7 linked regions of the Homo sapiens genome follow. The protein of the gene in region 2 purifies or fractionates together with the protein of the main gene of each other region. This does not show direct contact. Each region holds a gene or a part of one and is shown on either strand. Other genes may lie near its edges. The genes, in order: DCAF7, CCT3, DCAF13, HDAC3, EIPR1, TUBAL3 and WDR70.

Evidence for each region.
Region 1: the proteins of CCT3 (region 2) and DCAF7 purify together in Homo sapiens (affinity purification with mass spectrometry; 5 studies listed by BioGRID and IntAct, with this or other methods). This does not show direct contact.
Region 3: the proteins of CCT3 (region 2) and DCAF13 purify together in Homo sapiens (co-immunoprecipitation; 3 studies listed by BioGRID and IntAct, with this or other methods). This does not show direct contact.
Region 4: the proteins of CCT3 (region 2) and HDAC3 purify together in Homo sapiens (affinity purification with mass spectrometry; 3 studies listed by BioGRID and IntAct, with this or other methods). This does not show direct contact.
Region 5: the proteins of CCT3 (region 2) and EIPR1 purify together in Homo sapiens (affinity purification with mass spectrometry; 3 studies listed by BioGRID and IntAct, with this or other methods). This does not show direct contact.
Region 6: the proteins of CCT3 (region 2) and TUBAL3 purify together in Homo sapiens (affinity purification with mass spectrometry; 3 studies listed by BioGRID and IntAct, with this or other methods). This does not show direct contact.
Region 7: the proteins of CCT3 (region 2) and WDR70 purify together in Homo sapiens (co-immunoprecipitation; 3 studies listed by BioGRID and IntAct, with this or other methods). This does not show direct contact.

The regions. Positions count from the first base shown.
Region 1 is NC_000017.11:63,581,174-63,585,534, reverse strand, and holds part of DCAF7 (DDB1- and CUL4-associated factor 7), read right to left. Parts: intron 2,034-4,361; coding exon 1,824-2,033; intron 325-1,823; coding exon 207-324; intron 1-206. UniProt on the Homo sapiens protein: Involved in craniofacial development. Acts upstream of the EDN1 pathway and is required for formation of the upper jaw equivalent, the palatoquadrate. The activity required for EDN1 pathway function differs between the first and second arches.
Region 2 is NC_000001.11:156,331,793-156,335,292, forward strand, and holds part of CCT3 (T-complex protein 1 subunit gamma), read right to left. Parts: intron 3,127-3,500; coding exon 3,076-3,126; intron 2,984-3,075; coding exon 2,921-2,983; intron 1,852-2,920; coding exon 1,755-1,851; intron 1-1,754. UniProt on the Homo sapiens protein: Component of the chaperonin-containing T-complex (TRiC), a molecular chaperone complex that assists the folding of actin, tubulin and other proteins upon ATP hydrolysis.
Region 3 is NC_000008.11:103,421,420-103,425,780, reverse strand, and holds part of DCAF13 (DDB1- and CUL4-associated factor 13), read right to left. Parts: intron 1-4,361. UniProt on the Homo sapiens protein: Part of the small subunit (SSU) processome, first precursor of the small eukaryotic ribosomal subunit.
Region 4 is NC_000005.10:141,619,827-141,623,922, forward strand, and holds the end of HDAC3 (histone deacetylase 3), read right to left. Parts: intron 1,712-4,096; coding exon 1,642-1,711; 3' UTR 1,055-1,641; downstream 1-1,054. UniProt on the Homo sapiens protein: Histone deacetylase that catalyzes the deacetylation of lysine residues on the N-terminal part of the core histones (H2A, H2B, H3 and H4), and some other non-histone substrates.
Region 5 is NC_000002.12:3,188,208-3,191,243, forward strand, and holds the end of EIPR1 (EARP and GARP complex-interacting protein 1), read right to left. Parts: intron 1,302-3,036; coding exon 1,127-1,301; 3' UTR 763-1,126; downstream 1-762. UniProt on the Homo sapiens protein: Acts as a component of endosomal retrieval machinery that is involved in protein transport from early endosomes to either recycling endosomes or the trans-Golgi network.
Region 6 is NC_000010.11:5,401,500-5,406,631, forward strand, and holds the start of TUBAL3 (tubulin alpha chain-like 3), read right to left. Parts: upstream 3,330-5,132; 5' UTR 3,294-3,329; coding exon 3,291-3,293; intron 1-3,290. UniProt on the Homo sapiens protein: Tubulin is the major constituent of microtubules, a cylinder consisting of laterally associated linear protofilaments composed of alpha- and beta-tubulin heterodimers.
Region 7 is NC_000005.10:37,381,926-37,386,286, reverse strand, and holds part of WDR70 (WD repeat-containing protein 70), read right to left. Parts: intron 1-4,361.

The sequences.
Region 1 (4,361 bases), on a different chromosome or scaffold from region 2:
AAGATGTTCTGATGTCCATGAGGGTACAAGATCGTCTAAAAATTTGTACTGATTGAATTTCACAAGTGTGGAGAGGCTCCAACTAGTCATTTTGTATAAATCTCTCAAGACTGTGCTTAGAAAACAGTAACAACTACAATTCTAAGGAGCCAAGAGAACAGATTTCCTCCATCCTTCCCAGATTTCTTTCTCCCCACCATGATTACCTGCAGTGCAGATGTGGCAGGATGAATGTGGGGCCCAAGCAATGCCATTGACACATGCTCGATGGTTGTTTAACCTGGCGACAGGTGTGCAGGGAACCCGGACATCTAGAATCACCACCTGCGGAAATAACAAGTAAAAGGCCTGGGATCATCAGAGTTTCATAGAAAAAAACAAAAAATACTATCCACATGCAAAAATCTTTTTAGGCATAATTTTTCATTTGTGGATTTAAAGAACTAGAGACAGGATTTCCATAGGATTGAGGGAAAAGAAGACAAAGGACACGGGTAGTTGATAGTCTCTATCTTGAGCAACACTGGGCCTTTAGACTGATAGGGGAGATGCAGAAACAGACAACAGGAGTCTGGGTAATCCTGGGTCCCAGCAGGTGCATGTGGTAAGAATTCTATGCATCTCAGATGAATGGAATGAGAGCCCAGCCAAAGCAGAATCTGAGGTGCTAGCGCCACCAAACCAAGGACAACCAATGCATTCTCCCCACCCACAATTCACCTCTTTAATCAAGTAACAGACTAGAGAGAGCTGCCATTTGTTTTTCTTTTTTTTTGAGACAGAGCATGCCCTGTCACCAGGCTGGAGTGCAGTGGCATGATCTCCGCTCACTGCAAGCTCCGCTTCCCAGGTTCAAGCTATTCTCCTGCCTCAGCCTCCCGAGTAGCTGGGACTACAGGTGCCTGACACCACGCCCGGCTAATTTTTTGTATTTTTTTAGCAGAGACGGGGTTTCACCGTGTTAGCTAGGATGGTCTTGATCTCCTGACCTGTGATCCGCCCACCTTGGCCTCCCAAAGTGCTGGGATTACAGGTGTGAGCCACCGTGCCTGGCCTTTTTTTTTTTTCAGATGGAGTCTTGCTCTATCTCCCAGGCTTGAGTGCAATGGCACGATCTTGGCTCACTGCAACCTCTGCCTACCAGGTTCAAACAATTCTCTTGCCTCAGCCTCCCGAATAGCTGGAACTACAGGCGTATGCCACCACACCCAGCTAATTTTTGTATTTTTAGTAGAGACGAGGTTTCGCCATGTTGGCCAGGATGGTCTCCATCTCTTGACCTCGTGATCCACCTGCCTCAGCCTCCCAAAGTGTTGGGATTACAGGCGTGACCCAGAGCGCCCGGCCAGAGGGCTGCCATTTCTACATCTGTTTGCTAAAGCTAGATGAATCTGTCCAGACTACAGAAGGGAAAATCTGCTTTTTCACTCAGCACCATAGGCACATACGATTTGGTTTACTCTTTAGATATTGCTTTTCCTGGCTCTAACTCCAACTCTTCAAAAATTAAAAGTTCTTAACAAGTAATTCTTATTCCAGATTAGGCTTTCTCAGTCCCGGGACTGCTGTCATTTTAGGTAGGATATACTTTGCTGGGGGACTGTCCTGGGCACTGTAGGATATTTAGCAGCCTCCCTGGTCTCTACCCCCTAGATGCCATAGTACCAACTGCGTCTCTAGAGCTGTGACAATCAAAAATGCCTCCAGACATTCCCAAAGATACTCCGGGAGCCAAACTGCTCCAGTTGAGAACCAGCCTTCTAGATATACTAAGCAGTGCTGGAGTTAGGCAGGGCCCATGGTAGCCTGAGAGGAGTGCTCACCTCCATTCCATCCATGGCCATGGTGGCCAGGTAGTTAGGGTCCTGCTTGTTCCAGCAGAGGCGAAGCAGTGGGTGATGCTGTGGGTCTTCGTAAATGATGGTGCTGTGTTCTAGATGGCGGAGGTCAAACATCCGCACCGAGCCATCAGCACCCACAGAGGCAAACATGTCCCTGCCACCCCCGGCCCGGCTAAATGCAATATCATAGACCTGTTGGTGAACAAGAAGCTCCAGTCAGATTCAGATCCATTACCTCTTCTTCCTATAGGAGGGAAATCTGCCACGTCCAGTTCATCTAAACCTCGCTCATGACACAAAAGCAGATAAATGAAGCCCAAACAGTGTCTGTGAGTACTGAAACCCGAGAGCTCTAATATCAGTGGCTTCCCAAAGATGGAAGATCATTCTGCTATAGAAATTGGCTGGCTTCTTCCCACATTCCTGCTTTCCAAGTCTTCTTCCTCCAACCCGTGATAAAACAAAGGCACATGCCCTGCTGACCAACAGAACAGTGGCTGTCTTCTGCCACACAACAAGAATGAGACACTTATTTCCTGGGCCTTGTGCACAATCAGAGGCAGGTCTACGAGCTCATTAAGGCCTAGATCATCAATCACAGAGGTGAAAGCAGCCCTCCTGTGGCCACTTAATAGCAGCCAAGCTGATTCTGTGAAACCTGGACCTGAGACTCATTTGCAAGAAAGAGGTAACAGAAATTTTGAGTCACGGGAGGCCTAGATGTTCCTGTATTCACAAATAGGTTAGTAGCACCCGCTTGTCCTAGGACATGTTTTTTCTTCTCCTAGTTGGTTTGAGATCATAAGTGAATCAATTTAGGTTCTGAATCACTGTTTTCTGCTTTTATTTGCTGCAAACATTGCATATCACTAACGTCTATGAGGAAACAGAGGCAGAGAGCAACGGAGAGCTTCAGAGAAAGGACGAAGGCCGGGTGCGGATTACACCTGTAATCCCAGCACTTTGGGAGGCTGAGGCGGGCGGATCACAAGGTCAAGAGATCAAGACCATCCGGGCCAACCCAGTGAAACCCCATCTCTACTAAAAATACAAAAAAATTAGCTGAGTGTGGTGTCTGGTGCCGGTAATCCCAGCTACATGGGAGGCTAAGGCAGGAGAATCGCTTGAACCCGGGAGGCGGAGATTACAGTGAGCTGAGATCAGGCCATTGCACTCCAGCCTGGGACAGAGCGAAACTCTGTCTTAAAGAAAAAAAAAAAAAGAGGACGAAGAGGGACGAAGAGAGAGCCAGAGACAGACAAATAGAGAGAGAAACAGAAAAACTAATGCCAAACAAAACTCATCTTCTGGGGATAATAACAGCTGACTTCTGGGGAGACACGACTAGAATTTCTCACTAAATATTACAGCTCCAGTGTTGAAGTTCTGCCTACAGAGGGGCACTGCCAAATGAGCATCTATTGCTATTTAACCTCACGAATTCCTTTTTTTTCTGGCTATGAAGAAATTATGCTTGTCTTTCTATGGCAGGAAGTAGAAGTGGTTCAAAAGGGACCGGGCCAGTCATCAACAAGGAGGCACTCAGGCCTGACGTGCCTGACAGATCGAGGCTTTCTCTAGTACTGTACAGCTGCTTTAAGGCACAGCCATGTTTATCAATATGTATACCCCCCAATGACAGCTCCTGGTAACCCTCAGGGACAGAGATCCCACAGGTGCCATGGGCAGCGTGGCTGAGTGTGTAATGCTCTCTCGGCTCTAAGTGACTGCTCCTTCAGTGCTCCGCTAGCATGGTTCACTGGGAAACCAAGGGAAGGTGACAACTCCCAAGTACACTAAACCCTCTTCTACACTGATCTGCCAGGTATCAATGAGAGCCTTCCAAACAAGTCTTTTCCTAGAGAAAGGTGGACTGAGAAAAATCAAAGGTGCTAGAAAGGTGCTATTACTGTTTCTCTAGAGCCACTATCCTTTCTCAGGTTTATTCCTTCAAGACAAGGCTGCCGGTCCAGGCCTGTCTGCTGTCAAGATCCATTCCTGGCCTTTCTCCCTGCTCTTCTTCTCTGTGTCACAAGAGAACTGATTCCTACAGCGTGCATTTGGCAGGGTCTCAGATCTGCTGGCTGCTTCTGGCTGGTTCAGCCATGGGAGGCTTTGGTGGGAAAATGGATGATGGGAGGCAGGGAAAAGCTAAGGTATTTCTCCTCCCCTCTCTCTGTTCCTAGAAGCGTCTCTGCCAGGTAAATCCAGCCCCTGGGCTCCAGGAACCCTGCCTCCTCCCATGGTCCCTCTGGCCTATAGGCAGCTGCAGCTTCCTGCTGCTCCCATTCTATGGATGACCTCACTGCTACCTATGTGGCTTCTCAGCTTTACCATCTTCTGTATAAGCAGCCCCTGGATTAAATCCCTGCAGTTCAAATACTTAAGAGTAGTTCCCATTTTCTGGGTTGGACCTAACAGACAACAGCAGGCTAAGTTGTCATATAACTAAAATGTAGCCGCTTGTTCAACTTGATGCCAAGAGGGTTTCCAGAAGTTCCTTACTGGTCCTCTCTGTGG
Region 2 (3,500 bases):
GGAGGCAGAGGCGGGCAGATCACCTGAGGTCGGGAGTTCGACACCAGCCTGACCAACATGAAGAAACGCCGTCTCTACTAAAAATACAAATTAGCCAGGCATGGTGGCCCATGCCTGTAATCCCAGCTACTTGGAAGGCTAAGGCAGGAGAATCGCTCGAACCCGAGAGGGGGAGGTTGCGGCGAGCCGAGATTGTGCCATTGCACTCCAGCCTGGGCAACAAGAGTGAGACTCCATCTCAAAAAAAAAAAGAGACATGGTCTTGCTTTGTTGCCCAGGTTGGAGTGCAGTGGCACAAACACGGCTCACTGCAGCCTCAACCTCCTGCCTCACCGACCTCAGCCTCCCCAGTAGCTGGGACTACAGGTGTGTGCCACCACATCCAGCCGATTTTTATTTTTTACAGTGACGCGGTCTCTCCATGTTGCCCAGGCTGGTCTCGAACTCCTGACCTCGTGATCTGCCCACCTTGGCCTCCCAAAGTGCTGGGATTACAGGTGTCAGCCACCACACTTGGTTGCAATCAGATTTTTTAAAACCAGTGTTTCTAGTATAAAAATTTTACTATCATCTTGACATTTACACAATAAAGGCAATAGGCCAAGATTTGAAAAATAATTCTTTATGATCCTATAGGAAGTAGAAAGATTAGTCTTTAAACTTACATAGCCCAGGGTCATTATCCTAAAGATTTCATTTCTTATTATTTGTAACCCCAAAATCAACATTCATGACACTTTCATAGTCATTCATGGAAATTCACAGAATGGCAAAAAATTTGAGTCACCCAATGACATTCCTAGGTGAGGTTAAACAAGGCCTTTAGCTCTCACACTGTAAAAAAAAGTGTCCTTTATGCAGTATATTTAAGGTTATGTTTTTCACATTTTTCTTGATGATTTCGGTATTTATAATGGCTCACAAGTGTAGTGCTTAAGTGCTAGCTAATGCTTCTATGTGCAAGAAGGCTGTGATGTGCCTTACAGAGAAAATACGTTAGGTGAGCTTTGTCCAGGCATGAGTTATATTGCTATGGGCTATGAGTTCAATGCTAATAAATCAACTATATATATTAAATGGGTGTCTTGAAGACAAACACATACAATAAGGTATATATTTATCAGTTGATGAAAGTGTGACCAGAGGCTTATAGGTATCTAACCCTGTATTTCCTATAGAAGCAATGATTTATTATTTGCCAATTCAGTGTTTGTGGTGACTTTATAGGCGTGGTGGCTCACGCCTGTAATCCCAGCACTTTGGGAGGCCAAGGAGGGCGGATCACGAGGTTAAGAGATCGAGACCATCTGGCCAACATGGTGAAACCCTGTCTCTACTAAAAATACAAAAATTAGCTGGGCGTGGTGGCACGTGACTATAGTCCCAGCTACTTGGGAGGCTGAGGCAGGAGAATCGCTTGAACCTGGGAGGCAGAGGTTGCAGTGAGCCAAGATCGCACCACCACACTCCAGCATGGTGACAGAGTGAGACTCTGTCTCAAAAAAAAAAAAAAAAAAGAATATTATAACTTACAGTGAATAAAGAGAATTAACTATTAGTTTATCAGCCAGATTTGCATAGCTCACCCTATTCATATAAATGTTTTATACCCAACTGGAGAGAATACATAGAAAATAACCAATAAGCTATTTAAATATCTGTAATTAGTGGATCTGTAACAGAATTTCCTTCTTAAAATATGACACAGGTGTTACTTCTAATTTTTCCTTATCAACCTCTTATTCTCCTCTTACCAAGAATAATTACTGATGTGGTCCCATCTCCAACCTCTTCATCCTGGGTCCGGCTAATTTCGATCATGGACTTGGCCGCTGGATGCTGGACTTGAATCTAAAAAGGTAGATCACTAGTGAATTCACACTATTCAAAGACCTCTGAACTCATGAAGCTTGGCCCTAACTCTTGGGCTTCTTGCTTCTATACGTACTTACTTTCCCTTTAATGTTTTACCATATCTTGAAAGATTAAAATTGGCACCCCAAATAGCTTAAGTAAACCACTTTCCAAATCCTTTTTGGGAAAAAGTGTATTACATGAACTCAACTATTAAAGCTGCCAGAGGACAGAACGATATCTTTTAGCTTATTTACTGGAAGCACTATTGTGGCTGAATTGTGTTCTTCAGTAAGATACGTTGAAGCCAGCTGGGCATGGTGGCTCACATCTGTAATCTCAGCACTTTGGGAGGCGGAGGCAGGTGGATCGCCTGAGGTCAGGAGTTCGAGACCAGCCTGGCCAACATGGGGAAACCCTGTCTCTACTAAAAGTACAAAAATTAAGCCGGGTGTGGTGGCATGCGCTTGTAATTCCAGCTAATCAGGAGGCTGAGGCAGAAGAATTGCTTGAACCCATGAGGCGGAGGCTGCAGTGAGCCGAGATCACATCACTGTACTCCAGCCTGGGTGACAAGAGCGAGACTCCGTCTCAAAAAAAAAAAAAAAAAAGATATGTTGAAGTCATAACTCCCAGAACCTGTGAATTTTACTTTATTTTAAAATAGGGTTTTTGCAGATGTAACCAAGTTAGATAAGGTCATTCTGAATTAGGGTGGGCTCGAAGACCAATCACCGGTGTCCTTGTGTAAGAGACACACAAGGGGAATAACATGAAGACCAAGGCAGAGACCAAGTTCATGCCAAAGAAAGCCAGCAACCATCAGAAGGGAGAAGCGGAGTTCTTCCCTAGAGACTTCAGAAGGAGCATGGCCCTACTGACGCCTTTATTTCAGACTTCTAGCTTCATTCTATAAGATAATAAATTTCTGTTGTTGAAGCCAACCAGTTTCTGGTAATCTGTTATAGCAGCCCTAAAAAACTAATCAGAGCCTGTATCTTAACAGGTCCTTTATGTTTACAGAACTGTCAGAAAGCAAAAAAACAAAACCAAAAACAAAACACACCTCTCGAAGAATGGCATTGCCATCATTGGTCATCACAATGCCTCCCATTGGGTCCAAAAGCATCTAAGATGAAAGCAAAAGTTATATTTAAAGTGTCCTAGATAACAGGAAGAAAAAAATTGTAGCCTAAGAGTTTTAGGAAGAGATAAGCCTACCTTCATCATGGACTTGGGTCCCAAACATGTTCGGATGATATCTGCAATAGTCTAATGGAAAGGGAACATAAAATACGCAAGCACAAATCAGAGGACAGTGTGAGAAATGTTGGAGTAATAGGGAAAAGGGGCATGAACAACCCACAGAGTCAGTGTTTTATTTTATTTTAATTTTATTTTATTTTTAGATATGGGGTCTCACCATGTTGCTCGGGCTGGTCTCAAACCCCTGGGCCCAAGTGATCCACCTGCCTCAGCCTCCCAAAGTGTTGGGATTAGAGGCGTGAGCCATTCCGCCCAGCCAGAGTCAGTGTTTTTAATGACACCCCTAAAGCATGGTTAGCCATCACTTTAGACATAGCATGCCACTTTAGATATAGGATGTGGCTAGCTCTGTTGTTTTTCTCCCCTTGGGAATGCTTTCA
Region 3 (4,361 bases), on a different chromosome or scaffold from region 2:
TTCAACTTGGAGAAAAAATGGATTATAAAAAATGGTATTATAATATCTGGTTAGTCATTCAAAAAAATTGAGCCAATTTGATGCCTTATGTGAAAATAAAATTCCAGGTAATTTTAAATGTAAAAAATAAAATGAAAAACATGAAAATACTGGAGAGAAGGCATTGTTATAATATTGAAATAGATAAAGTCCTTTTCTGCATGAACTGCAGAAACTACTAAGTCAGTGGTTTTCAAACTGTGAACTTTGGGCCTCTGGAGGACCCTGAGAACTTTTCAGGGTCCACACAGTCAAAACTATTTTCATAATGTTAGTAAAGACATAGTTTGTCTTTTCACTGTGCTGACAGCTGCACAAATAGTAAAAAAGCAACAGTGAGCAAAACTGTTGGCACGTTAGCCCAAATCAAGGCAAAGCAACAAACTATGGTAATTTAGACATGGGTATTTGGCAGACATGTTTAAGCTATCAGGTGAAACAGACTACAAAACAGAACATATAATGTAGTTTGAGGTTGAAAACAAAATCATAAATGTGGTACTGTATAACTGCATACATACAAAACTGCTAGTTTTAACTTAAAATCTTACATTTATATATTAGATGCAATCTATATCCACTTTTTGATAAAATCATTAACAAAGATATCTTTATCTAAGGGAAGAGTATGAATGTAGCTCTTTTCTTACAGCAAATTCAAAAAGGAAAACGCTTCTTGCAAAACAGTTTACAGTGCCCATGAGATGAAAACAGATAAGTGATCAGGAAAGGTTTTGGTACTAAGATTACACAGCGATGTCTTTTGTTGAGGATGTCGATGAACAGAATCCTTAACTACATCCTTGTTATAGACAAAAAGTATTTAATAGGGCTACATCTTATTAACAACTATGAATCTGAGCCACTGGCACTATACTAAAACTCAATTCTAGAAACCTGATTCTACTGGGAGACTAAGATGTAATCTAGGTACCAGGTCTTGACTGATCTGGCTTGACCCAAAGAGACATTTTAGCACTTACAGAATACAGGATAAACTGTGTCCCTGAGCACCCCGTTCCTGAAGACGCTATCCCTCCATCAAGTTTCTGATAGTGTCTGCAAGCTCAAGACTGAATTTGCTTGTAAATGACCAAGCTGTTCTGCCGTCTACTGAGTACAAACCTCAGCGGACCACCAATTCTGGGAAGGGTTTTCTCATTTTATAGAAATGAGTAGCCGAACAAGAATATGTGCCTGGCTAGAACATCTCATCTCCAGGCTGGTTATGCTGAAGAAGGAATTGTTGGTATTACAAACTGGTATATCTTAGTGAAGTTTTAGGTAATAAAAGTTTATGTTTTGCAACACTGTGTACTAAAATTTTTAAAAACATTCTTAAAGTTGTACCAGCAAGTAGTCTTCACATGTGTCTTATCTCTGACAAAGCACACATTACTCAAAAATATCTTTTTGGTTGGGCATGGCGGCTCGCGCCTGTAATCCCAGCACTTTCAGAGGCTGAGGCGGGTGGATCACTAGGTCAGGAGATCGAGACCATCATGGCTAACACGGTGAAACCCTGTCTCTACTAAAAATAAAAATAAATAAAAAAATTAGCCGGGAGTGGTGGTGGGCACCTGTAGTCCCAGCTACTGGGGAGACTGAGGCAAGAGAATGGCGTGAACCCGGGAGGCAGAGCTTGCAGTGAGCAGAGATCATGCCACTGCACTCCAACCTGGGCGACAGAGGGAGACTTCATCTCAAAAAAAAAAAAATCTTTTTGAAAAACCGAGAAACAATAAGGTGGGCATGGTGACTCATGCCTGTAATCCCAACACTTTTTGGGAGGCTGAGACAGGCTTGAGCCCAGGAGTTCAACATCGGCCTGGGCAACGTAGCAAGACTCTGTCTCTTTAAAAAAATAAAGTGGGGGGAAATAAGTGGTGAATATGAAACATTTTCAGTCTTTATTCATTTCTTAAAATGTTTTTTATTTAATTTACAAATAAAAGATATATATTTATGATGTACAACATTGTGTTTTGATACACGTAGACACTGTGGAATGGATAAACCAAGCTAATTAACATATCTGTTACCTCACATACTTATTATTTTGTGGTGAGAACATTTAATTCACTTTCATAGCAATTGTCAAGAGAGCATGTTGTTATTAACTATAATCACAGTGTTGTACAACATCCATCCCATCTATTTGAAATTTTGTCTCTTTTGACCAACATCTCCCCAATCTCCCTCCCTCAAAGCCCCTAGTAATGACCATTTTACTCCATTTCTAAGAGTTTGGCTTTTTTAGATTCCACACAACTGAGATCATGTGGTATCTGTCTTATTTAACTTAGCATCATGTCCTCCAGGTTCATTCATGTATGCTGCAAGTGACAGGATTTCCTTCTTTCTGAAGGCTGAATAGTATTCCTGTGTGCGTGTGTGTGTGTACTTTTTTTTTTAAAATTCATTCATCCATTGCTGGACACTTTAGGTTGATTCCATATCCTGGGTATTGTGAATAATGCTGCAAATGAGCCTTTATTCATTTTAAGCATTAAAAAAAAATACACTAAGTCCTCTGGCTGAGCTATTAATCAATATATCCAAGAGAATAACCAAGTGTAAGAAGCCTTAGGTGCCATCCATTCCCACTTGCCAATCAATTCCTTGCACAACACTGGGCTTGCAGGGTCAGGCAGCTTATCTGCACCCCTCTAGTGAAAAGTAACTGAATGCTTTGCAAGGTAGCCTATTCTGCTTTTTGACAGCAAATAAGTTTTTTTTTTTTACACCAAAACCGAATCTTTTAACACTAACACCTATTTCCAGTGCCTCTCTATGGAGCAACAAATTAGTCTATTTTCTTTTTCACATGACAATCTTTCAAATTGTAGCTATCAGGTTTCCCAGAAGTCATCTTTTCCCTTTATTATTCTCTTGCAATCTAGCTTCTGCACCCAGCCAACCTGGATTGCAACCTACATTTTATAACTCAGCTCAACCTGTTTTTTAAAAAGTCACCAGTAAATAAAGAATAAGGAAGATCTATTTGACTGATTAGCGCATGTGTATACAAAAACTGTTGTATAGGTAGGTCAAAACACTTGAAAAGACATACACCAAACTAATAGTGTTAGAAGTGAAAGACTAGAATTATGCAATCTTTAATTTTCTATTTTTTACATCTCTACATTTCTAAAATGTTTTCCTCAGTCTTCATTTTTCATTATTCTTTGTAGTAGTTCACAAAACTGACTATTCCTTCCTCCTAGGACACTATGCTCATTCACAGATTCTTTGAGCTCTGGCTACTCCTAGAGTTTTCCCACTTCCCAGAGGTGGGCATTCCCCAAGGCTACTTCCTTGACATCTTTGTATTTCTATATTTTCCTCCTCATTTCCTCCCAATGATGCCATACTATGGCTTCAATGATTAGTTCTATATTGATGATGTCAAGTTCAGCTCTGACCTCCCTCCTGAGCTCCAGACCTGCATCTGTAAAGGTATGACAGACATCTTCACTCGAACAGCCCATTAGCAGTCCAGTTTGTCACATCATATCCTTCCCATTGCCACCCTTCAAAACTTGCTGGTACTCCTCAGCAACAGGAACCAACCTCTTCCCAGGCACCTCTCAGTTGTCAAACCTGTCAATCCTCCAAAGTATCAACCACTGATTTCTAGTTTTCAGTCTCCATAATAAGGTAGCCTCTTATTATTGCCTGCCAAACTATTAAAATGGCCTTCAAACTGATCACTAACTGCTGTCAAATTACTTAACTCAAAGCACAGCTCAGATTTTGTCGTTCCCCTTGTTTAAAAAGACTTTCAATGAACTTGAATTGGTATTTGTACACCAATGGTCACGGCAACACTATTCACAATAGCCAAAAGGTGGAAACAAATCAAATGCTCATTGATGAATGAACGGATAAACAAAATGTGACACATACAATGGAATGTTATTTAGCCATAAAAAGAAAGGAAATTCTGACATGTACTACAACATGGATAAACCTTGAAGACAATTATGTTAAGTAAAATAAGCCAGACCCAAAAGCCTTATTCCACATACACAAAATGGTATAATTCTTTAAAATATGCTTCTATTTATATGAGGTACCCAGAATAGTCAAAATCACAGAGGCAAAAAGTAAAATAGTAGTTACCAGGGGTTGGGGACTGAGGGGACAGAGGAGTTATTGTTTAATGACTATAGTTTCAGCTGGGGATGATGAAAAAGTTCTGAAGACAGATGGTGGTGATGGTTGCACAGTGATGTGAATGTACTGGATGCCACCAAACTGTATATTTAAAAACAGAGAGTAAATTTTACGTTCCGGATATCTTGCCACACACAGGCACA
Region 4 (4,096 bases), on a different chromosome or scaffold from region 2:
ATTTAAACCCAGCTTAGTCTGATTTGCTGCCAAACCCTATGTTTAACCAGGATTCCCCACTGACATAAACCAAACATGAGTGAAAAGAATGAGTATTCTCCAAGAGTATATTCTTTGCTCTTCTAGCATGACTTTCTCCCTAAGCAATTTCATCCATTCTCCCAGCTACATCTGTCCCTTGTGTGACAGTTACGTGGCTACCAGTCGGCCTTCACAATATGGACTGAATATTCTTGACCACAGCTAGCAAGATTTCAAGCATAAGTTCCTGAAGGGCAGAGTCAGTGACTTACTTACTCTAGAGCCCCAGTACCTAGTCAAGGGCCTGAGATATACCAGGGACTCTGCCAAGCTGGCTGGCTCCTAAATTTGGCATTCATCTCTCTTGTGGTCCAGACCTTCTGATGGTGATCGGATAGAATGTTACATAGAGCTGTCCATCCCATACTTCAAACTTGACTTAGTGCTGAGCTTTCCAGACATTTTGTCTAAAAAGTCCAAAAGCTACTTTCTAAGCTAGTGTTGAGAACAGACAGAATCAGAGAATGGAGGGGAGGAAGTGACCCATCTATCAGTCCTCTTTCTTGTATCAGTCTGTATCTGCTACAATATTTATCATACTACTGACTGGAATGTAAACTCTTCTAGAGAAAGGTTCATGTTTGTGGCTACTACAGTATTTAGCATTGTTCTTCACATAGACAGATAATGGGCAACTTCTTCTGTCAGGCACTGTGCTAAGCACTTAACATGTTTTATCTCAGTGTATCTTCACCAACTAGCATCACTACTCTAAACACCCAGATTCAAAAACCTGAAGTCATCTTCTACTCCTCTCAAATCTGCCCAGGTTTGTCTAACTCTTAACCAAAATCCTCTATTAACTTCTTATATTTACAATAATAAATGTAGAATACATACACAGGGCCTAACGTAGGATAAGTGCTGAATGAATGTTAACTATGCTTTTATTACATGCATCATCATGCCCATTTCCCTCTCCTTTCATAAATAGGAAACTAGCAAGAATTAACATTCCTAGAAAGGCGAAAGGTACAAAAAATACCGACTTAGTTTATTGGATAAAAACAGTGGTAAAATGGACATAAAGCCAAAAGTGAGAACAGAACATTTTCATATCCTCCCCACACTTGAAAACATACTTCCCATCATCTGGGATTCAGGTGTTAGGGAGCCAGAGCCCCTTCCAAATCTCTCTCTCTTCATCTTCCCTGGAAGCAAGGGGAGGAAGAAGTCAGAACCCAGGGGAGGAGGAAGTCAGAGGCAATCTCAGTCCTTGTCTACCCGTTCATCCCTCAAAAATCTCTGGGTTCGAGGGAAGCAGGGAAGAAATAAGGGGCAAGGGGGGCTAGGGACTGGCCTCCAGGGCCCACTGCCAATAATGTCCCAGATAGCTATCCTTGTCTGTATCTCATCCCTAATAGGTACCATTGTCAGGCCTTGGGAGAGAGAGGAAAAGCAGGTAGATGGTTCGAGAACCAAATGTGGTCTCCAGACTCTTTCCCAGAGTCAGCAAAAGCCCTGGGGTGACCCCCAGGACTCTAGGAGCCACTCCTTTTCCCTCCAGCCCAACCAAGAGGTGAAAAGAAATTCCTTGGGACACAGCATCCCAAGCCACTCTTAAATCTCCACATCGCTTTCCTTGTCATTGTCATGGTCTCCATCATAGAACTCATTGGGTGCCTCTGGCCTGCAAAGCAAGGGGAGAGAGGTCAGGATCTCACTCTAAGTTCTAATCTTCTCCCAGCACCCTTTTCCAAAGCCATTTCTCAGGCCCCGTTGAGAACCACTCCTCCTCTTGTTGGTAGAGACTGCTATTCATTCACCCATTCACGTATCAAATAAACATTAAGGAACTACTCTATACAGACACTGTCATAAACCTTAGCAATACAGTAGAGTAACAAGCTGGACAAGGTTGTCTATCCTCAAAAAGCTTACCTAATAAATGAGACTAGTAACTAACAAAGTAAATAAATATAATAATTTCAGATGATGGAGAGTACAATTAATAAAATGAAGTGATAGGACTGAAGGTGATGAGAGGAAAAGGGTGAAATTTCAGACAGGACTATTGGGACATAAGACCTAAAGTCTGAGGAGGAGCTAAGCAGGCAAAGACTTCAGGAAGGCCATTCCAAGCTGCAAGAAAACCAACTACAGAGGTCATGAAATGGAAAGAGACTGATGTATTCCAGTAAGAACAAGGAGGCCAGGACAGCCGGGAGCACTGTGCATGGAGGAGAGTAGTTAGAGATGAGATCCTGGATGTAGGTAAGGGCTAGCATGCAGGACCTTTTTAAGCCACAGTCAAAATTTTGGATTTTCTTCTAAGTGCAAGGTAAAGGAGAGTTTTAATTTTAAGAAGAGTGACGTGGTATTATAAACCCATAGTGAAAGAATGGATGTGAAAGCAAAACAGGGCCCAACAGGTACTCAATATTGGTTTCTTTCTTTTTGAAAAAGTATTCTCAAAAGCCGGGCGTGGTAGCTCACACCTGTAATCCCAGCACTTTGGGAGGCCAAGGCAGGTGGATCACAAGGTCAAGAGATCAAGACCATCCTGGCCAACATGGTGAAACCCCGTCTCTACTAAAAATACTAAAGTTAGCCGGGTGTGGTGGCACATGCCTGTAATCTCAGCTACTGAGGAGGCTGAGGCAGGAGAATCGCTTGAACCTGGGAGGCGGAGGTTGCAGTGAGCCGGGATTAGCCACTGCACTCCAGCCTGGCAACAGAGTGAGACTCCATCTCAAAAAAAAAAAAGAAAGAAAAGAAAAAGTATTCTCTGGGACACAGAGAATTGAGAAAGTCATCAAAGAGAAGCTGAGGCACTAAGCCAGGAAAGGCCTTATCTGCATGGTGAGCAATGTCTCAGTTACTTCTAAGTGCACAGGGTTAAAGGTGTGGAGTCAGAGAATCAGGTTGAATCTCAGCCCTGATCTTTAACTAGCCATGTGACCTTCAGAAAGTTACTTAAGTCTCGCCGGGGGCGGTGGCTCACACCTGTAGCCTGTAATCCTAGCACTTTGGGAGGCCGAGGCAGGCAGATCACCTGAGGTCAGGAGTTCGAGACCAGCCTGACTAACATGGAGAAACCCCATCTCTTCTAAAAATACAAAAAAAATTAGCCAGGCGTGGAGGCTCATGCCTGTAATCCAGCTACTTGGGAGGCTAAGGCAGGAGAATCGCTTGAACCCGGGAGGCAGAGGTTGTGGTGAGCTGAGATCATGCCATTGCACTCCAGCCTGGGCAAAAAGAGCGAAACTCCGTCTCAAAAAAAAGAAAGAAAGAAAGTTACTTAGACTCTCTGAGCCTTAGATTCCTCCCGTGTTAATCTGAAAATAAGAGCCATCAGAGTTGTCTGATGGCAACAGAATGATCATATATATGTTGTAATAGATAGCACTTAGTAGTGTCTGGTGCTTGGCAAACCTACAAAAAGTGGTAACTCTTCCTATTTCTACTCTGCAAGTCATATGCAAGCTGGAGCTATAGGCATCAAAGAAGAACAGAAACTCAGTGGGTGGCCTGACAGAGAGGTAGGGCTTAGGAACAGGAAGAGGCCTGAGGCTTCTGCTGGCTGTGACAGGGCTTGGTATTATTATAATGCAGAGACTAGGTCCAGATGCCAGCCTGGAGCTATTGATAAAAAACCCAAAAGGAAGAACTTAAAAACAGGTTTTACCAAACCAAACCAGACAATGAAAAGCAATTTCCAATAGTCCTGGAAGCCCTGAAGCCAGACACTTCCAGATGTTCAGACACTTCCTCACTCAGAAGGGATCGGGGGATATCCTTGGAGGAAGAGAGTTGCAGAGATCCCCAAGAGTCAGAGCAGTAAAGCCCAGGTCCAGAGGAGAGATTCGGAGGCCTGAATTCTAAGACAGAAGCAGATTCTAGAAGGGGCTGAGAAGCCCATCAGGCTCTGCAGCAGAGCCGGCTCAAACCTCTAACCCTGCGTGGGAGCAAGACAGCGTGTCCCACAAGTGTCCAGCTGTGGTTATCCCTCAGTCATGTAAGGAAATCTGTTCCCCATTAAGTGCATCTGTTTCTGCACTTCTTGGTTCTGTTG
Region 5 (3,036 bases), on a different chromosome or scaffold from region 2:
CTGGCGGGGGCGCTGCAGCAGGAACGTGTCCTTTTTGCAGGTCGGGCAAGACTTGTCCTAGAATCGTCAAACCCCAGAGCTGATGGGCCTGTGAGCTCAGCCCATCCTTCCCCATCATTACAGATGAGGTGATCGGGGCAGCAGAGCGCAGAAGTGGCCCCTGCGGGGACACCTGGCCAGGTGGAGGCCTAAGGGAGATGGAGCCCAGAGTCCAGGGCCCAGGTGGCTTCTCCAGTGGGAACACGCACCAGACACAGAGAACAGACCCCGCACACCCAAAGGAACCACGAACAGAGGCTGCGAGGTCAGTGTTTGAGGATTCCTAAGGATAAGCACTGATGAGTGTAGGAGCCTGTGAGGGGTCCCCGACAACTGAGACGCGGGAGCCCAACCCCAAGCTCCGAGGTGAGGGAGGACGGCACCTCCAAGGCCACCAGTGCGTGCGCGTGGGGAGGAGGCCCTGCCCGGCTCACAAGGTGGGCAGGACACAGCACAGGATGGGCTGCAGAGACCAGGGGAGGCCCAGGGCGGGCAGAGCCTGCGTCTACAGCAGTGAAAATGCATCACACCAGCTCAGCCCAGGGCGCGAGCCAGGTGCCCACCAGCAGCCAGCATGGCTCCCGGGAGTTCCATGCTAGGGCGGCGTAGACAGCACACGTCTGTCCATCTGCATTTTCCCTGGGTCAGGAAAGAGAAAATGGACAAAGACCCAGGAGATGGGGTCACAGGGCAGAGCTCCTGAAAGAATGAGCCGAGCACCTGTGCAGCGTGGATTTATTTTATTTCATTTTTTACTCTCAAGAGAAAGAAGAGTTACTATTGCAGGAACAGACATTTTTTTAAAAAGCGAAACTCCTGACACCCTTAAAACAGAAAACATTGTTATTCACATAATAATGTGGGGCTCTGTCTCTGCCGACAGGGGCTGGGTTCGGGCATTAGCTGTGCCGTCGACAATAGCCCCATTCACCCCATTCATAAATGCTGCTGCTACAGGAAGGGAACAGCGGCTCTCCCAGAGAGGGATCCACCTGGAACACGAGTCACCTCCAAAGAGCTGCGACTGTTTGAGAATCTGCCAAGAGGAAAACCACTCAATGGGACCTGGATAACCCAGGCCCGGGAGTCATAGCAGGATGTGGTACTTCAGGGCCCTGGGCACCCTGTTGATCACGAGCCTCCCGTCATAGCTCAGGGAGGCAAACAGCCACGGGTCAGCCGAGGACCAGTCCACGGCATAGACGCTGTCCTCGTGCTCCTCGTAGGTGGCGATCACGTTGTCCTGCAGGGGCTCCTTGCTCCTGCAATGCAACAGAGGCAGACGTGAGCGCAGCAGCTCCGGCGGGGCGGGCAGGAGAGGGGCAGGGAGGACGCGAGCGCTGACATCGGGAGACACGGGAGGTACTGGGGCCTCAGCTTTCTCCGCTGTGGGATGGGAAGAATTAGAGGAGCCCACACCGAGGACGGTGGGGTGGTCCCTGCAGAAGCCCAGAAACCCTCACTGTCACTGTGAGGAGTGGGCATTTCTCAAAAGGTTTATGGAAATCGGCGACATTGGCACATGGTGTCTTGGTTTCTTCTGTCCTTGGCCCCCGGGTGCCTGGGTTGATATTTTGTTGGAGGTCTTCCAAGGGCTTCCTTTAGCTCAGGGGAAAGACTGGGGGAAGTAGTCACCGTGTCTGGGTAACACAGGATGTAAACGCCCCTATTGCTTGAGCAGAAAGGACCCTGGGAAGCAGCGGGTCCAGCTCCTGGCTGTGTAGGAGTCAGAGGCTGGGGCACAAGGAGCCTTGCTAGGATGGGAGTGGGGCTGGGCTGAGGATCCCCCAGGACACCAAGAGGAAGACGCCCTGGCCCTGTGGGAGCAGCAGAGGCGTGACCTGCCTGGCCTCCCCCAGGGTGTTTCCCACCTCGCCTCCCTTGACTGTGAGTTACCCTCACTGGGAGCCCTGACCAGGGGATCCTCACACAAGAAGCACCACTTCCTCAGCACAGCGTGCATGGGGAGGGGGCCCTGCCCGGCTCACAGCGGCCACTTTCCGGTGGACACAGGCTTCTCTGGCACTTTACTTCCCATTTCACAAAAAAATTCCCACATAATTTGTGTACCGCATTCTAACTGCTTTTGCATTTCTTTGTAGGAAAATGCTTCACCCCCCCAGCAAGACGGACCCTCCAGAACTCGCATGGTCTCTGGGAAGCTGGCTTCCCACAAAGTGGACCTGCCAGTGGTCAACTGCTGTTGTGGGACAAATGCCAGGTGCAAATCCTTAGGAGGAATCATGGTTTCCTGAATGCAGCAGGACATCAGGACTGAGGGATGTCCTAAGAAGTCTGCGTAGCCCCGATCACCTCCTCCCTTCCTATCTTGCTCCCATGACATTGCCGCCCAGAAGACAACGCCAGCAGTCTTCCGACCAACGGGCCCATCAGGCTCCTCCCCTAACAGGGACAGACATGGTGAGGAAGTGCAGACTCCCTGGGCCACTGGCAGAGAGGACGGTAAAGGGAGCCAGGCCCACAGGCACCGAGAGACCACTGGGCAGATGCTACCGTGCGTGTGCTTAAATACTATTCTATGGCAGACCGAGTTTCTAAGGTTTGAACAGAAAAACAACAGAGTCTGGCTCATGCCTGTAATCCTAGCACTTTGGGAGGCTGAAGTGGGCAGATCACTTGAGCTCAGGAGTTTGAGACCAGCTTGGGCAACATGGCAAAACTCTGTCTCTACAAAAAGTTAGCCAGACATGGTGCCATGGGCCTGTTGTCTCAGCTACTTGAGAGGCTGAGGTGAGAGGATCACCTGAGCCCAGGAGGTCAAGGCTGCAGTGAGCCATGATCGTGCCACTGCACACCAGCTTGGGTGACTTTTTTGTTTGTTTTTGTTTGTCTCAAAAACAAAACAAAGGCAACAGAGTCAAGAGACAAACAGATGGGCCCATCGCCACTGCAGAAAGGGTCCAAAGACAGAGACAATCAGATGGGCCCATCGCCACTGCAGAGAGGGTCTGAAGACAGAGACAATCAGATGGGCCC
Region 6 (5,132 bases), on a different chromosome or scaffold from region 2:
GCTAGTTATTGGAAAGAAATAAAACTAAAATCAATATATAGCCTTGTCAAGTACTAAAACTCATCGCAGATAAATTTAAAATGTTATCTTTACCATTCATATGCACTCTGAATAAGGATGGATATACTAAACTTAAAACTAGTGGGAAATTTTACAAGGCAAAATGCAATAGATTTAACAGTTCCAAAATGTAAAAGTTTTATAACAAACATATAGAGATAAAAATTGATTTTATATACATCAACTTTCTAAAAAAAAACACTTAAGACATCCACTAGCTAGGCAAATGATATAAACAAACAAATTACAAAAGAAAGACTCTAAAATGCAAGGATGTAGGCTGATGGCATTCACAAGCATCACAATTCATAAGCATGAAAACCAAAAACCAATCTATTTAATCTAACCATTTATATATTGTTGAGCATTTAAAGGATGTTACATCAACACAATGACATGTTATGCAACCCTTAAACGTTTTCCCAAAAAAAAAAGATTTATGACATGGGAAATGCTTATGATAACATATTAAGTAAAAAGCACATAAGATGCATGATTGCATATAGAGTATGATGTCCAATATGTTCAAAAATAGGCATAAAAATCTAAAAGAAAATGCATCAAGATATTAAGTTTAGTAATATCTGGGTAGTGATTTTATTTTCTTGTCTAAACTTTACTATTTCTTCCACCTTCATATTCCCCCATCCCACTTTAAATCATCTTTTTTTTAAGGCAAACAACTATTCTGTTAAACAGACAATGATCTACGTTTTTAAGAGAAGGAAAGAAAAAAAATGAGAAGGAAAGTAAAAGCTAAATTCTAAGAAATCTGAGGTGATAGCAATCGCTGTTCTTAATATTGGTGTGGTTTGATTGACTGTGGTGCTGAAACAAATCTATTTAGAGGGTCTTGTAGAATGAGACCCCCATGTCTTCTGCATCATCAGGACCCTTTGGGCTGTTTGACCAGATAAGCTGAGGGGAGCCCTGCCCTTGTTCATGGCTACACTGCCCTAAAGCCTGAGATTCAACTACTGAAAGACCTCAGGCCTCCTGTCAATCCCTCACCTGTGGTCTACACAGGGGTCCCCAACCCCCGGGCCACAGACCAGTACCAGTCTGTGCCCTGTTAGGAACTGGGCTTTACAGAAGGAGGTGAGCAGCAGGTGAGTGAGCATTACTGACTGAGCTCTGCCTCCTGTCGGATCAGCGGCAGCATTAGATTCTCATAGGGGCACTAACCCTATTGTGAACTGCGCATGCAAGGGATCTAGGTTGTGTGCTCCTTATGAGAATCTAACTAATGCCTGACGATCTGAGGTGGAACAGTTTCATCCAGAAACCATCCCCACTGCCGACTCCATGGAAAAATTGTGTCCCACAAAACTGGTTCCTGGTGCCAAAAAGTTGAGGACCACTGGTCTACACAGACCACTAGTCAGAGGAAAGTAAGGAGAGGGCTCTGGTCGGCCACACCCCTGCAATCTGACTTGGACTCTGTTCATGCTCAATGGCATCAAACCTTTGTACTTTGTCTCTGTGATTCACAAGGCATAACAGCCCTCTGCTTCATGACCAATTCAAGTTCACTACCTTAGTAGGGCTTCCATCTTGTTTATTTTCTGTGCAACTATCAGTCTCTCTAATTTAGAAAGCACTTCATTTAGGACAAACTAATATTCCACCTCTCAAGACAGCATATTCTGTTATAAACAGGCTTCGAATACCCCTTATCAGGCTTCAGATAACCTTAATCTTATTCCTCTCCCCTTCTGTCGGACTTAAAGTGCTGCAAATACATCAGCTGCTGTAATCTGATCAAAACTTGGCTCCTTAAATTTAAGTTAACATTTTAAAAGGAGAGGGTGAACGTTCATTGTTTCTACATCATTAAAACCTCTTACTTTGTAAAGTTTACATGTAGATTTCTCTGTCTTCTCCACTGGCTACCACCCAGTCCTGTGTTACAGTGACGAGTAAAATTCAGGTGTACATGTGGTATTTGTTCATAATAGTCACAGTAAAAATAATCACTAACATTAAAAAAAAAAAAGATTGTTCCTCTTCACGTGGTCTGTTCAAGTGACTCAGAAAGCAGAGTGATGCTGTTCTTTTTGAAATCAGCACGAATAGCCTGGACTAACAAGCATCCTTCGTCTTTGAAGGAGCTTAGCTTATAACATAACTCTGTCCAAGGGTGTAGAAGACTATCTTTGCCTTATTCTTCTCTTAGCCTCTCCCTTTTTTTCCAAATTCTCTATGAAAATATTAGTCACACTATAAAGTAGAAGACTATAAAATGTCCACTGAACGTCAACACTGATAAGTCATAGCACATTATTAAACGCTGCTATAAGGATTATTTGAATTACTAGAAAAGCATAACTCTCAGTTAAACTTTCAATTTTGAGGTCTTTGTAGATTGATATGCAGCTGTGAGAAATAACATAGGAAGATCCCTTGCATCCGTTACCCATTTCCCGCAGTGGAAACATCTTGCAAGACCATAATACAAAATCACACCCAGAATGTTGACAGTGATAAGATACAGAACATGCTATTATCACAAGTCTCTCTCATGTTGAAAGGCATAATTTTTAAAAGCAAAACAATTTAAAATTTTTTAAATGTTGGACAGAGAGACCAATGGGGTGAGAAATCAAAGATCAAGAAGCAGTTCGAAATGTTGCTTCCATTGAAGAATTAAAAATTCAAAGATACTGAAAAACTGGCACAGAAAAAAATAAAGGGCAAATGGATCTGAAAAGGTCATCCCAAAACAGAATTATTGTAAGTTATTCTATTCATTGTGGTGCCCAAAGAACTAAACTCAAGGGAGGGCAAAGAAGATGTCTGCGCACTTTACCCTGCCAGGCATTTATGAGGTTAGCCACGGTTACCTAAGTCTGAAGTCCTCAGAAACTCTTAACAGCCTAACGAAAAGTGAAGCAATGAATATCTACAGAAAAATCAGCACTCTGGGCCTAAAACAAAGGTGAAAACTAAAGGAAGGAAAGGTTTTTGCTTCAGTGCTTCAATTAATGGCAGTGAGCTACTGCAAATCAACTGAGCTTTACCTTGAAAGAAGCAACATTACAGAGGAATAGATTACAGCCTGTCCACATCTGCTCCCAACTCATCTACTTGGACATTGAAAGAAACAAATGTTTCTTTACAAATGTCTTCTCTTGCATTACAATTTTATTAAGAATTGTTTGCTGTGGGAAAAGGGCCAAATATGATTAGTAAAATTTCCTACAACAATGCATAGGCGTGTAGTCACTTACCATGCTGATGAGAACGTGCCCTTCCTGCCCTGTAGTAATGACTGAGGAGCCTCCCAGCTGAGCTTTATCACAGGGCCCGGAAATGACTCCACCTGAGGGCTGGAGCTTTCTTCACTTAAAGCAGTATAGCTTCTTTTTAGTTTTTTTAGTTATCTGGTCTCAGAGTAGCTGTGTTGGGCCTGAACAACCCGGGATAAAGTTTGTACACAGCTGCAGATGAACTACTGAGAGCTTATCCAAATCTGCGTCCAACTTATAACTATGTTGAAAAGAACATGTGTCTTTTAAAAATCACCCTTTTGGGTTAAGAATTTATTTAGCATTGGCAGAGAAAAGGAAGGAGTATGAGTAAAATTTTCTGCAACAGCAAAGTAGCTTTTTCTATTGCATGAGTACTATGTGAATATCTTCTTAAATAAATTTAAACAATCCCTGAATACATACAGCAAACCAAGACAGTGTCCTTTTTACATCTGTGTCCTATGCATGCCTCTCAACCACTACCACATCCAAACATATGGGAATTTTCTGTTTTTATTATTATTGTCTTTTGAACTTTTATATTATTATACATAATATATACTTATGTTATTATTTTTTATTAATTGCACTAAGATCAGATCACACATCTTAACTGAGTTCTCTCCTTATATATTTGCTAAAGCTTCCTTTATATTCTACTATATGGTCAATTTTTGAAAATATTCCATGAGTGTTGAAAAGAATGTGCATTCTACATTTGTTGGATGCAATATTTTAGATAGACCGATCATTCAATCAATCAATCTATTAAATCAAATGGATTTATTGTGTAGTCCAAATTTTACGTATCAATTATTTCAAAAGATGTATTAAAAGTTTTCATTATAATTGTGAATTTACCCATTATTTCTTTTTCTGTCAATTTTTCCTTTATACATTTTGAGGCCATGTTATGAAGAGCACATAAATTTTAAATTATTATATTTTCAAAAACTTTAACAATTTTTTATTTTTAAATTACCCTCCTTATATACATTAATTATTTTTACCTTAAAGTTTTTTTTTTTTTTTTTTTGAGATGCAGTCTTGCTCTGTCGTCCAGGTTGGAGTGCAATGGTGCGATCTCAACTCACTGCAACCTCCACCTCCCAGGTTCAAGCGATTCTTCTGCCTCAGCCTCTCAAGTAGCTGGGATTACAGGTGTGTGCCACTATTCCTAGCTAATTTTTTTGTATTTTTGATAGAGACAGGGTTTCACCATGTTGGCCAGGCTGGTCTTGATCTCCTGACCTCGTGATCTGCCCGCCTTGGCCTACCTTAAAGTTTTTATGATCAAATATTAATATTACTACTTTAATACAGTTTTTTGGTTCACATTTGAATGATGTATTTTCCCATCGTTTTACATTCTTAGAAACTTAAAACCTTTCCATATTCTCATATTTTGGATGTGTTCTTTGTATGCATGATATAACTGAATTTTTTTTCTATTTTTGTATTTGAATTGGAGAATTCAGCTCATTACATTTAATATAATAACTAATATAGTTGGGTTTAGATATAGAGTACTATTTTATTTTGTGCTTTCTGTTTGTCTCCATTTTCTAAGTTCTCTTTTCTTCCTGATCTTCTTTTGAATTAATGACATGTTTTGTTAGCATAGTAACAATTTTATTATTCAGTAATCAAAACAAAATTTCTGTTACTCAAGAATCTTGGTTTCTACCAATTCTTCCTTACAACTTTGAGAAAATGAAGAAACCATAGTGTTCTTCAGCAATTTTCTCCTGAACTTATTATAAATTATACTTTCTCTCATTTTGATCTTCATAAAGTCAATCCTATCTGTCTCTGTCAATA
Region 7 (4,361 bases), on a different chromosome or scaffold from region 2:
ATTATATGCTTAAAATGGTAAATACAAGGTACCTATACTGTGATAGTACAAACATTCACTAAATTGTTTAAAACATTTGTAAATGCCTCAGATAGCATGTCTTTGTCCATCGTTTGAGGATATTAAAATTGTTTTTTGATGTGATGATATTGTGGTATAATATGAAATATATTTGGCCAGGTGCAGTGGCTCACTCCTGTAATCCCAGGACTTTGGGAGGCTGAGGGGGGCGGATCATGAGGGCAGGAGATCGAGACCATCCTGGCTAACAGGGTGAAACCCTGTCTCTACTAAAAATACAAAAAAAAAAAAAAAATTAGCCAGGCATGGTGTCCGGTACCTATAGTCCCAGCTACTCAGGAGGCTGAGGCAGGAGAATGGCGTGAACCCGGGAGGCGGAGCTTGCAGTGAGTCGAGATCGCACCACTGCACTCCAGTCTGGGCGACAGAGCAAGACTCTGTCTCAAAAAATATATATATATATTTGGTCTTTGTTTCAGGTTCCTGCCACAGAGCTTCTGAAACCCTTGGAATTTCCTAAGTGATAGGAGCTGTCTCTTGTTATTCATTAGAAGCCCCTTTGGATCCCACCTAAGTTTATGCTATTGAAGTGACTTAGTGCTGGACCCCTAGGCCTCAGGATGGGACTGCTGCTCACTTAAAAAACTGATGGGTTAGATAATTGGAACTTTCATCCCCACCCACCAATCTCTGGAGAAGCTGAAAATTAAGATCTGTAGAAATTTTTTTTTTTTTTTTTTTTTTTTTGAGACAGGCTCTCGCTTTTTTACTCAGGCTGTGATGCAGTGGCATGATCATAGCTCACTGCAGCCTCAACCACTGGGCTCAACTGACCCTCTCACCTCAGCCTCCCAAGTAGTTGGGACTACAGGTGTGCACCACCATGCCCAGCTAATTTTTGTAAGATTTTTTGAATGGGATCTCACTGTGTTAGCCCAGGTTTATCTCAAACTCCTGGGCTCAAGTGATCCTCCTACCTTGGTCCCCCAAAGTGCTGGGATTATAGGTGTGAGCCACTGCACCCAGCCTAGACACTCCTGAACCACTAGATGTGATTAGCTTCAGGGTAGCTGAACACAGGGGTATGCTGGGGAGTTGGTGCACCCAGAGAGGGCACAGAAGCTCTGCACCTCTCCCACCCCATACCTTGCCCAGTGCATTACTTCATCTGGCTGTTCATCTGTATCATTTATAATATTCTTTATAATAAACTGTTAAACGCAAGTAAAGTGTTTCCCTGTGAGCCGTCCTAGCTAATTATCAAACCAAAAAGAGCGGTCATGGGAACCCTGATTTATAGCCAGTAGATTAGAAGCACTGGTCACAACCTGTGAATTGAGATTAGTGTCTGAGTGAAGGCAGTCTTGTGGTAGTCTCCAGGCAGACGGTGTCAGAATTAAACTGAGTTACCGGATACCCAGTTGGAGAACTGGTTGATGTGTGGGGGAAAACTCCTACATATCTGGTGTCAGAAATAAAGTACTGGTTCACACCTGTAATCCTAGCACTTTGGAAGGCCAAGACAGGTGGATCACTTGAGCCCAGGAATTCAAGACTGGCCTGGACAACATGGTGAAATTTTTTTTTTTTTTTTTTTTTTTTTTTGAGACAAGAGTCTCACTCTGTCGCCCAGGCTGGAGTGCAGTGGCAAGATCTCGGCTCACTGCAAGCTCTGCCTCCAGGGTTCACGCCATTCTCCTGCCTCAGCCTCCCAAATAGCTGGGACTACAGGCGCCCGCCACCACGCCCAGCTAATTTTTTGTATTTTTAGTAGAGACAGGGTTTCACCATGTTAGCCAGGATGGTCTCAATCTCCTGACCTCGTGATCCGCCCCTCCCAAAGTGCTGGGATTACAGGCGTGATCCACTGCGCCTGGCCAACATGGTGAAATCTATCTCAACTAAAAATACAAAAAATTAGTGGGGTGTGGTAGCACCAACCTATAGTCCCAACTATTTGGGAGGCTGAGGTGGCAGGATTACCTGAGCCTGGGAAGTGGAGTCTGCAGTGAGGCAAGGTCATGCCACTGCACACCTGTCTAAGCAACAGCAGTGAGACCCTGTCTCAAATAAAAAAAAAAAAAAAAAAAAAGGGGGGAAAGTACTGAGAGGAGTGCTAGAGGATAGGAAACAACTTGGTTTTTCCTATCTCTTACAGGTATCTTGGTTAAGCTTTTTTTAAAACAATCCTTATCGTTTTAAGGTATATACAAAAATATTTATGAGTAAAATGATGTCCAAGATTTGCTTCGAAATCATCTGAAAGGGGAAACGAAGTAATGCTAGCCATGAACTGTTACAGTAGTTAAATCTGATTGATAGGTACATGGTAGTTCATGACTATACTTCCGTGTTTGAAATTTCACATAATAATGAAGGGTTTTGCTGGGTGCAGTGGCTCACACCTGTAATCCCAGCACTTTGGGAGGCCAAGGCGAGTGGATCACGAGGTCAGGAGATCGAGACCATCCTGCCTAACACGGTGAAACCCCATCTCTACTAAAAACACAAAAACAAAATTAGCCAGGCGTGTTGGCAGGCACCTGTAGTCCCAGCTACTCCAGAGCCTGAGGCGGGAGAATGGCATGAACCCGGGAGGCGGAGCTTGCAGTGAGCCAAGATCGCACCACTGCACTCCAGCCAGGGCGACAGAGCGAGACGCCATCTCAAAAAAATAACAATAATAATAATAATGATGGGTTTTGGCCTGGCACAGTGGTTCACACCTGTAATCCCAGCACTTTGGGAGGCCGAGGCGGGCGGATCACCTGAGGTCACAAGTCCGAGACCAGCCTGGCCAACATGGCGAAACCCCGTCTCCACTAAAAATACAAAAAAATTAGCCAGGCGTGGTGGTGGTCACCTGTAATCCCAGCTACTCAGGAGGCTGAGGCAAGAGAATCACTTGAACCCAAGAGGCGGAGGTCACAGTGAGCTGAGATCACGCCATTGCACTCCAGCCTGGGCGACAGAGCAGGCCTCCGTCTCAAATAAAACAAATAATGAAAGGTTTTTTTCAAAAAATAGTACATGTAGATGGCTTTCTTTTCACCACAAAAAGTTTTCTTCCAAAGACTGAAAATATTTTTTGTCAGGCACACTGCCAAATACTGGATATTGCTGCTGTACAACGTTTTATTTTTTATTTTAGTTATTTTGTTTTATATTTTATATTTTATTTTATCTTATTTTATTTTAAGATGGAGTTTTGCTCTTGTCGCCCATTTTATTTTATTTTATTTTTTTTATTTTGAGATGGAGTTTTGCTTTTGTCGCCCAGGCTGGAGTGCAATGGTGCGATCTCAGCTCACCACAACCTCTGCCTCCCAGGTTCAAGCGATTCTCCTGCCTCACCCTCCCTACTAGCTGGGATTACAGGGGCCCAACACCACACCCAGATAGTTTTTCTATTTTCAGTCAAGACGGGGTTTCACCATGTTGGCCAGGCTGGTCACGAACTCCTGACCTTACGTGATTCACCTGCCTCAGCCTCCCAAAGTGCTGGGATTACAGGCATGAGCCATTACACCTGGCCCATTGTTGGTCTTAAAATGATAAATTGGGCCGGGTGCGGTGGCTCACACCTGTAATCCCAGCACTTTAGGAGGCAGGCAGATCACAAGATCAAGAGATCAAGACCATCCTGGCTAACATGGTGAAACCCCATCTCTACTAAAAATACAAAAATTAGCTGGGCGTGGTGGCGTACACCTGTAGTCCCAGCTACCTGGGGGGCTGAGGCAGGAAAATTGCTTGAACCGGGGAGGTAGAAGTTGCAGTGAGCTAAGATCGCACCCCTGCACTCCAGCCCAGCAATAAAGCGAGACTCCATCTCAAAAACAAAACAAAACAAAACAAAAAAACAAAAAGCGGGGCACAGTGGTTCACGTCTGTAATCCCAGCACTTTGGGAGGCCAAGGTAGGCAGATCACAAGGTCAGGAGTTCGAAACTAGCCTGGCCAACACAGTGAAACCCCATCTCTACTAAAAATACAAAAAATTAGCTGGGCGTGGTGGCATGTGCCTATAGTCCCAGCTACTCGGGAGGCAGAGGCAGGAGAATCGCTTGAACCGGGGAGGTGGAGGCTGCAGTGAGCCGAGATCATGCCATTGCACTCCAGCCTGGGCAACAGGGCGAGACTCCATCTCAAAAAAAAAAAAAAACAACAGTGATAAGTAGCATAACAACATTCTTTTCTCTCTTTGTTCTCTGAGATGGAATTTCACTCTTGTCCCCCAAGCTGGAGTGCAATGGGGGTATATCAGCTCACTGCAACCTCTGCCTCCCGACTTCAACTGAAGCCACTGCCTCAGCCTCACGACTAGCTGGGATTACAGGC